Regions from separate parts of the Homo sapiens genome. Here all the other regions are linked to region 3. The links come from fine-mapping of genetic effects on gene expression. A gene starts in region 3. Each other region holds a variant in brackets. All regions are shown on one strand. Distances are between the middles of the regions. Region 1 overlaps LOC107987105 (a long non-coding RNA gene). Region 2 overlaps ABCA1 (ATP binding cassette subfamily A member 1). Region 3 holds the start of NIPSNAP3B (nipsnap homolog 3B).

Region 1 (2,766 bases), 150 kb after region 3:
GTCTTGTCTCTGTTACTAACCAGCTTAATTTGAGGAAGAAGAGGATTGGGGAATGTCAGACATTATCTTGCTTTTCCTTGGTTTTTACGTCAACATTTTACTCTATGTGAAGAACATTTTAAATTTACAGCCCAAGATGAATGATGAAGTGTGTTCAGGAGTGAACCACCTTCTAGGTAATCAGTTTAGCTGAAGCAATTTTTATTAATGGACCAGTGAATTTAGAGTATATTGGGCATAAACATATTTTACGTAGACAAGTAAGAATTACCTGCTTGTGGAATCTTTGGGTTTAGTCACTCGTTTAATCTTCCCAAGTTCACTTGTTAATTTTAGTGGAAAGAATATTAAACAGTCACAAACTATATTTAAATATATCCATCATAGTTGTTTACAGATTAAATCTGATGGCAAGAGTTGAAATTATTGATAATTAAATTTACATCCTGACAAAATGGGCTGTGAAAATCTATTAGTTCCCATACACGAGTTCATTGGACTTTTTGCACCCACTAAGAATTCCTGGTAGGTAGAAAACTCCGGAAGTCAGGCATTTTATGTTTGACTCATAGTCAGGTTGTCTTGAATGCTCAAATGCTAATTTTGTTTTCCTTCACAACTTAAATCCAGCCACTTTGATAAATTCTCTGGGATGACTCAGGTGGCTCCATAGTGTTACATCAGATTTATACCATTTTTTATTATTATACTCTAAGTTATAGGGTACATGTGCGCAATGTGCACGTTTATTACATAGGTATACATGTGCCATGTTGGTTTGCTGCTCTCATCAACTCGTCATTTACATTAGGTATTTCTCCTAATGCTATTCCTCTCCCAACACCCTACCCCCCGACAGGCCCCAGTGTGTGATGTTCCCCACCCTGTGTCCAAGTGTTCTCATCGTTGAATTCCCACCTATGAGTGAGAACATGTAGTGTTTGGTTTTCTGTCCTTGTGATAGTTCACTGAGAATGATGGTTTCCAGCTTCGTCCATGTCCCGGCAAAGGACATGAACTCATCCTTTTTTATGGCTGCATAGTATTCCATGGCATATATGTGCCACATTTTCTTAATCCAGTCTATCATTATGGACATTTGGGCTGGTTCCAAGTCTTTGCTATTGTGAATAGTGCCGCAATAAACATAGGTGTTCATGTGTCTTTATAGTAGCATGATTTATAATCCTTTGGGTATATACCCAGTTATGGGATCACTGGGTCTAATGGTATTTCTAGTTCTAGATCCTTGAAGAATCTCCACACTGTCTTCCACAATGGTTGAACTAGTTTA[C/G]AGTCCCAACAGTGTAAAAGCATTCCTATTTCTTCACATCCTCTCCAGCACCTGTTTTTTCCTGACTTTTTAATGATCACCATTCTAACTGGCGTGAGATGGTAACTTATTGTGGTTTTGATTTGCATTTCTCTGATAACCAGTGATGATGAGCATTTTTTCATGTGTCTGTTGGCTGCATAAATGTCTTCTTTTGAGAAGTTTCTGTTCATATCTTGCCCACTTTTTGATAGGGTTGTTTGTTTTTTTCTTGTAAATTTGTTTAAGTTCTTTGTAGATTCTGGATATTAGAGATTTATACATTTTTGATAGAAAATTAATTAAAGGAAGAAGAAATTTTAAAGCACACATTTCTCCTTACAGGAGAATATTAGGAGAGTTTTTCTCTCACAGGGTTGTAGAATCAAGGTCTGAAGAAAATAAAGGCATGTTAACTGTCTTGATATATTTATGTGTTCAAATTTGCTGGGCAAAATACACAATCATTATAATACTGACATAATGCTTTATTTTAATACTTGAGCCTCTAGAGGAGTTTTCATTCAGAAATTTTATTTTAAAAGCTTATGGAGGATCATTTTGTTGTTAGCAATTTGTTTTTTCTAATTTGGAGACAAAGTAAGATAAACTTATCTGATATAACAGTCATGTATCTCTGTGTGTGTGTGTGTGTGTGTGTGTGTGTGTAGTGTGTGTGTGTGTTTGTAGTGTGTGCGTGTTCCTGTGATTTTTCTACCAGACAGCAAAATCTACCATTTCTACCAGATAGCAAAATCTGCCATTTCTACCAGATAGCAAAAATTTCTACCAGATAGCAAAATCTACAATTCTTAGTGTAACTGAAGAAGCAAGCCACACCCCCATCACATGCTCTGCCAGGGGGATAAGGGAATTTTTCCTGTTTCACTTCCATAGCACACTAAGCCATCACTTTAATCACAGCTTTCACCACTTTGTATTGAAATTCACTAATTACATGAATGTTTTTCTTACTAACTATATGATTCTTGAAGGTGAGGACTGTGTCTGAGGCATTTTTATATTTGCAGATGTTCTTTCTACAAGTTTCATAGAGTATATATATATAATACATTTCATGTAAACAAGTGATTTAAAAATGTAAAATTGTGACTGTTATCATTAATTGATATATCTTTATCCTATTTGATACTTTGTTATTAGCTGAAAAGAATATTTAAGAAACCAGTGTAAAAATGTAAAATACACAATAGAAAAATGAATAGAGGACATGAGTGCACAACTCACATGAAAGAAAATAAAACTCTTTAAGACACACCAAAATGTAAATAGTAAATATCTATAAAGATTAAAATGCCATTTACAATAATGACAAGATACCATTTTAAGCCCTTTAGATTAGATTGAAAATCTAAATTATTGACAACATCCAGTGTTGATAAGAGGAAGATAAAATTAGCGACACCATAACACTACATTAGTATTATCCTTTT
Region 2 (2,766 bases), 46 kb before region 3:
TTACGAAAATAAAAATGAATAGGTGCTTAGAATGGGGCCTGACATTAGTAAGTGCTTAGTTTTGTGTGTGTATATGTTATTTTTATTTTGGAGGAGAACATAAAAAGGACAAAGTGTAGAAAAACTGGTTGGGTGTATTCAGCTGTCATAACATGAGAGTTGTTATGCCCAGATGCACTTGACATGTGAATTTATTAGAAACATGATTTTTCTCTGAGTTGATGTTTAACTCAAACTGATAGAAAAGATAGGTCAGAATATAGTTGGCCAACAGAGAAGACTTGTTAGACTATTGTCTGCATGTCAGTGTTTGCATGCTAACTTGCTTAGTTAGAAAGGTTAAATTTTTTCACTCTATAAAATCAAGAAATATAGAGAAAAGGTCTGCAGAGAGTCTTTCATTTGATGATGTGGATATTGTTAAGAGCGGGAGTTTGGAGCATACAGAGCTCAAGTTGAATCCTGACTTTGCTACTTATTGGCTATATGACCTTGGGCAAGCTGCTTAGTCTCTCTGATCCTCAGTTACCTTTGTTTGTTGATGATGACCATTGATAACACAACCATAAATAATGACAACATAGAGATAGTTCTCATTATAGTAGTTGTTATACAGAATTATTCACTCAATGTTAATTTTCTGCATTGAAATCCCAGAACATTAGAATTGGGGGCATTATTTGAATCTTTAAGGTTATAAGGAATACATTTCTCAGCAATAAATGGAAGGAGTTTTGGGTTAACTTATAAAGTATACCCAAGTCATTTTTTTTTCAGAGAAGATATGGTAGAAAGTCTTAGGAGGTTGAAGAAGGAATTGGATATTTATTCTTTCTGAGACTATCATGGGAGATAATGACTATGGTTGTCCATGATTGGAGCCGTTGCTGTAGAGTTGGTTTTATTATAGTGTAGGATTTGAATGGGCCATGTGTTCTCAGACCTCAGATTAAAATGAGAAAACTGAGGCCAGTGGGGAGCGTGACTTCACATGGGTACACTTGTGCTAGAGACAGAACCAGGATTCAGGACTTCTGGCTCCTGGTCCTGGGTTCATGGCCCAATGTAGTCTTTCTCAGTCTTCAGG[A/G]GGAGGAAGGGCAGGACCCAGTGTTCTGAGTCACCCTGAATGTGAGCACTATTTACTTCGTGAACTTCTTGGCTTAGTGCCTCTGCCAGGTGGCCATAACCTCTGGCCTTGTGTTGCCAGAGAAAAGGTTTAGTTTTCAGGCTCCATTGCTTCCCAGCTGCCAAGAATGCCTTGGTGCAGCACAGTCATAGGCCCTGCATTCCTCATTGCCGTGCTGGTTGGTCGGGGAGGTGGGCTGGACTCGTAGGGATTTGCCCCTTGGCCTTGTTTCTAACACTTGCCGTTTCCTGCTGTCCCCCTGCCCCCTCCACTGCCTGGGTAAAGATTGTCTTGCCAGCTGTGTTTGTCTGCATTGCCCTTGTGTTCAGCCTGATCGTGCCACCCTTTGGCAAGTACCCCAGCCTGGAACTTCAGCCCTGGATGTACAACGAACAGTACACATTTGTCAGGTATGTTTGTCTTCTACATCCCAGGAGGGGGTAAGATTCGAGCAGACCAAAGATGTTTACGAGGGCCAAGGGAATGGACTTCAGAATTACACGGTGGAATGAATTTTACTGCTGCGGCTCAGGTCCCTGTATAAGCTAATACTGCATGCATAGAACAGCAGCGAACTAACCCTGAATAATAGGCCAGTCTTCTGTTGAGCCTTTCAGCCTCTCTCCTCTTCATCCTACTGTTGTCAGGAACAGCCACATGTGTTTTAGGTGAAATAATCCACCCTTGCAAAAATCCATGATTAAGTTATAAAATATTTGGATTTGTGGAGCTGTGTTTTAATTCTGTAACTGAGTCACAGGGCACACTGTCAAAGCATAGAACCTCCAGAGACTTGTTTTCTGCAAAGTATAATTCATGTAATTATTATCTATTCTGTTATATTTGGGATGTTAGGTAGTGTTTGTTCTTTAGATAAAAATATCCCCCACTCTGTAACAATACATTAAATCAAAGAAAAGGACAAAGGATTTTTCTGGGTCTTGTTAGCAGGAGCTTTCTTCAGTCCTGAAAGATTTGTAGACCTGTAGATGGGGGAACTGTGTCAGTGATACAAAAGGGAAGCATTTAAAAAAAAAAAAGTATATATATATATATATATATATATATGTAATGTGAATTGGCCTCTTTTTCTCTAAGCCCACATTTTCTTCTTACATAGTTCAGGTTTACTTTATTTTTTCCTTTCCGGCTGCTGACCCTGTATTGCCCGTAGTTGTGGAACATAGCATGTGTTTGTGACCTGTGCCTGTTATTTTTGTGCTTTCTAGTTGTGCATGCAAAGAGTACAAAGTTTTCTTGCCCTTTCTTGGAAAATCCTGCTTGTCTGTGCCAAAGGGATAATTGTGAAAGCACTTTTGAAATACTTAATGAGTTGATTTTCTTCAAATTAAAAAAAATATATAAATGTATATGTGTATGTACATGTGTGTACACATACACACCTTTATACATACAGCCCATTTAAAACAAGCTCCACTTTGGAGTGCTCTACGTCACCCTGATGCCGAATACAGGGCCAGAGTCTGAGATCCTTCTGGGTGGTTTCTGTGTTTTGTTCATTTCTGTTTTAAGAGCCTGTCACAGAGAAATGCTTCCTAAAATGTTTAATTTATAAAAACATTTTTATCTCTCGATTACTGGTTTTAATGAATTACTAAGCTGGCTGCCTCTCATGTACC
Region 3 (2,766 bases):
CAAAAATACGTTTACTAACAAAAAACTCTTGTTTTTAAAAGGTTCCTAAAAAAACAGGAAGGGCTATTCAGGTCAAAGTATTTCCTGAATCTACTGATGAAGACTACCGGTCAAAAACAGGACTGGAATGTAACTAATATAAAAGGAAGCTATAACTTATCCAATTGCATTGTACTATGGGTGTATACTGCATAAAGGCTGAAAAGGAAAAAAACTCAACAAATGAGAATTGTCTCCATCATTGTTTCTAATTACAGATGCAATATCAAGAAGTATGTACATTTAGTGCACTCAATTATACCAAGTTTATGGAACTATCCTTTAAGAACCACCCTTTGTAATAGTCATATGCCCAATGGGTAAATTTTCTGTCCTAATCTGGCCCTCTGAGCCTGAGTGAGCTTAATGTTCAGTAGCAAATGCCCTGTCAGAAATTATCCAGTCTGTCTGTATGTACGTACATGCAAATATTTATGTAAACACACGTGTATACACAGACCACTCCCGTGGCATTCTAGTTTACAAATCCATTCATTTAGGCATGGTTAGCATGTGACAATTTCCTGAGGCTCACTACCCAGAATAATCTATCGCAACAGTTTCAGTAGGCATCTTTCACTGACATATTTTTGGTTACAACATGCAAATGTCTATGTAGTTTGTGTGCATAACGTCTTAATTATAATTGTCTATCTTGAGTTCATTCATCTCCAGTATGAGTTATGCCCTTATTGCCCAAGTGTCTTAGTTTTCTTAGAAAACCCTTCTTCATACCAAAAAATACCTGCAACTATCCTTTCTTTTGATGGCCATTCTTTTTGGGTCAGTTTAATCAAATTCTGAAAATAAAAAACTGCTTAGTATCTACAGTTTAAAAATATTATTATCTCGGAAAATGGGCCAATGAGGTATTTCTAATAACTGCTTTTAAAGTTGATTTTCGGAGATTTGTATCTGGAGATGTTATCCTAAAAAAACGCAACAGCTGGCGCCACGGGGGTGTCCCGGGAGTTGTGGCATTTAGGCTAGAAACAGCTGGCATCAGGCTGGGCACAGTGGCTCATGCCTGCAATCCAGCACTTTGGGAGGCCAAGGTGGGCGGATCACGAGGTCAGGAGTTCGAGACCAGCCTGACCAACATGGTGAAACCCCCGACTCTACTAAATAGTAAACACAAAAAAAATTAGCCGGGCGTGGTGGCTGGCGCCTGTAATTCCACCTACTCCGGAGGATGAGGCAGGAGAATCGCTTGAACCCGGGAGGCGGAGGTTGCACTGAGCCGAGACTACGCCACTGCACTCCAGCCTGGGCGACAGAGCGAGACTCCGTCTCAAAAACAAAAACAAAAATCACAAAAACACTGGCATCCAGTTAGAAAACCCCTCTGACAGCGACTGCCAGCGAGACGACCCCGGCCTGTAGCCTCCTCCTTGCGCGCCAGACGGCTCCAGAGACCGCGTTAGAACTTCGGCGGCGGCGCGGGGCCCCAGGTCTGGGAGCGCCTGAGCGTGGCTCGCACGCTTCAGAAATACCCCCCGCCCCTCCCCTCCCCTCCGGCCAGGGCTCGGGCGCGCCCCCGCGGCCAGTACCTGAGGCGCGAGCGTCCGTGAGGCAAGCGCCTTGGTCAGGCCGCTTCTGAGAACGAGCATGGCGCGGCTTCGGCACTGAGAAAAGCAGCCAGCCGAGTCCTTTGTGAGACTTCTCTGAAGTCTTCCCGAGTGGAAAAAAGCGGCTCCTGGACCACTGGCGAACTCAGGCAGGGGCGGGACTCGGCGGGGTCAGCTCCACCCCGGCGCGGGAGGCGCGACAGGTCCCGCAGTTGGCGTCTTTCTCTTCGGCGCTGAGCCTCGGTCCCCCTTGGTTTCCTGAAACGTTCTTGCCCCAGACGTTAGAGGTGACAGAATTAGCTGAAGGCTGGGATCGTTCCTGCCCCACCTTTCTGGGCCCTGACCTCATTCGCTCCGATGCGCAGTTGTGTAGATTCGTAAATGTGCGGCGGTTGTGCTTGTGTTGCCCCTGGAGAAGGAAGGGGAGGTGTTCAGCGTGTGCATGTGCAGTGCTTTGCATTTAAAGTCGAGATGTTGACAGGGTTAACTTGTTTCTTTGTTTGAGACGTAGTCTTGCTCTGTCGCCCAGGCTGGAGTGCACTGGCGCGATGTCGCCTCACTGCAAGCTCCGCCTCCCGGGTTCACGCCATTCTCCTGCTTCAGCCTCCCCAGTAGCTGGGACTACAGGCGCCCGCCACCACGCCCCGCTAATTTTTGTATTTTTTAGTAGAGACGGAGTTTCACCATATTGGCCAGGCTGGGACAGGGTTAACTTTTACAGGTTGTGATAGACGTGTATTTGTAGACCAGTGAGCCTTCGCTTTTCTGCATTATCTGTCCCCATTGCCACCCCACTGTGATCTTGGAAGGCTCCTAATAAAGATTTAATTTTCCATGAGCTCAGTGGAATAGCAGCACCGAGCCTGATAGGAAAAAGTCGAAGTTAAACATAGATAGTTTGAAACTAGATCGTTCTGTAAGCCTTAAGAGCAAAACAGCCGACCTCTGGTCTAGTCCTCCCAGTCCCAGAGTACTGGTCCCCAGACTAACCACCTTCAACATTTTAAGCTGTTCTTCTAATACCTGTTTCCGTATGTTTTTTATTTTTTTGAGACAGAGTCTTGCTCTGTCGCTCAGGCTGGGGTGCAGTGGCATGATCTTGGCTCACTGCAACCTCCGCCTCCCGGTTTCAAGAGATTCTCCTGCCTCAGCCTCCTGA

What was found. PIP is the estimated chance that this variant, and not a neighbour inherited with it, causes the effect.
Region 1: its variant is fine-mapped to the expression of NIPSNAP3B in stomach (GTEx, PIP above 0.99).
Region 2: its variant is fine-mapped to the expression of NIPSNAP3B in pancreas (GTEx, PIP 0.96).

Annotation. Positions count from the first base shown.
Region 1 is chr9:104,613,604-104,616,369 of GRCh38, reverse strand. All of the region lies in intron 3 of LOC107987105 (a long non-coding RNA gene), which reads left to right. Among named protein-coding and RNA genes, the nearest start is that of OR13C9, 3.2 kb to the left of the region's middle. The variant C/G (reference allele first, on the strand shown) is at 1,295.
Region 2 is chr9:104,809,570-104,812,335 of GRCh38, reverse strand. It overlaps ABCA1 (ATP binding cassette subfamily A member 1), which reads left to right. Exons shown (of 50, transcript NM_005502.4): 29 at 1,412-1,536. Among named protein-coding and RNA genes, the nearest start is that of NIPSNAP3B, 47 kb to the right of the region's middle. RefSeq lists an enhancer at 1,214-1,508. The variant A/G (reference allele first, on the strand shown) is at 1,088.
Region 3 is chr9:104,763,124-104,765,889 of GRCh38, reverse strand. NIPSNAP3B (nipsnap homolog 3B) reads right to left here and starts at 1,761. Exons shown (of 6, transcript NM_018376.4): 1 at 1,590-1,761. The coding sequence starts at 1,649. RefSeq lists silencers at 1,446-1,635, 1,833-2,032.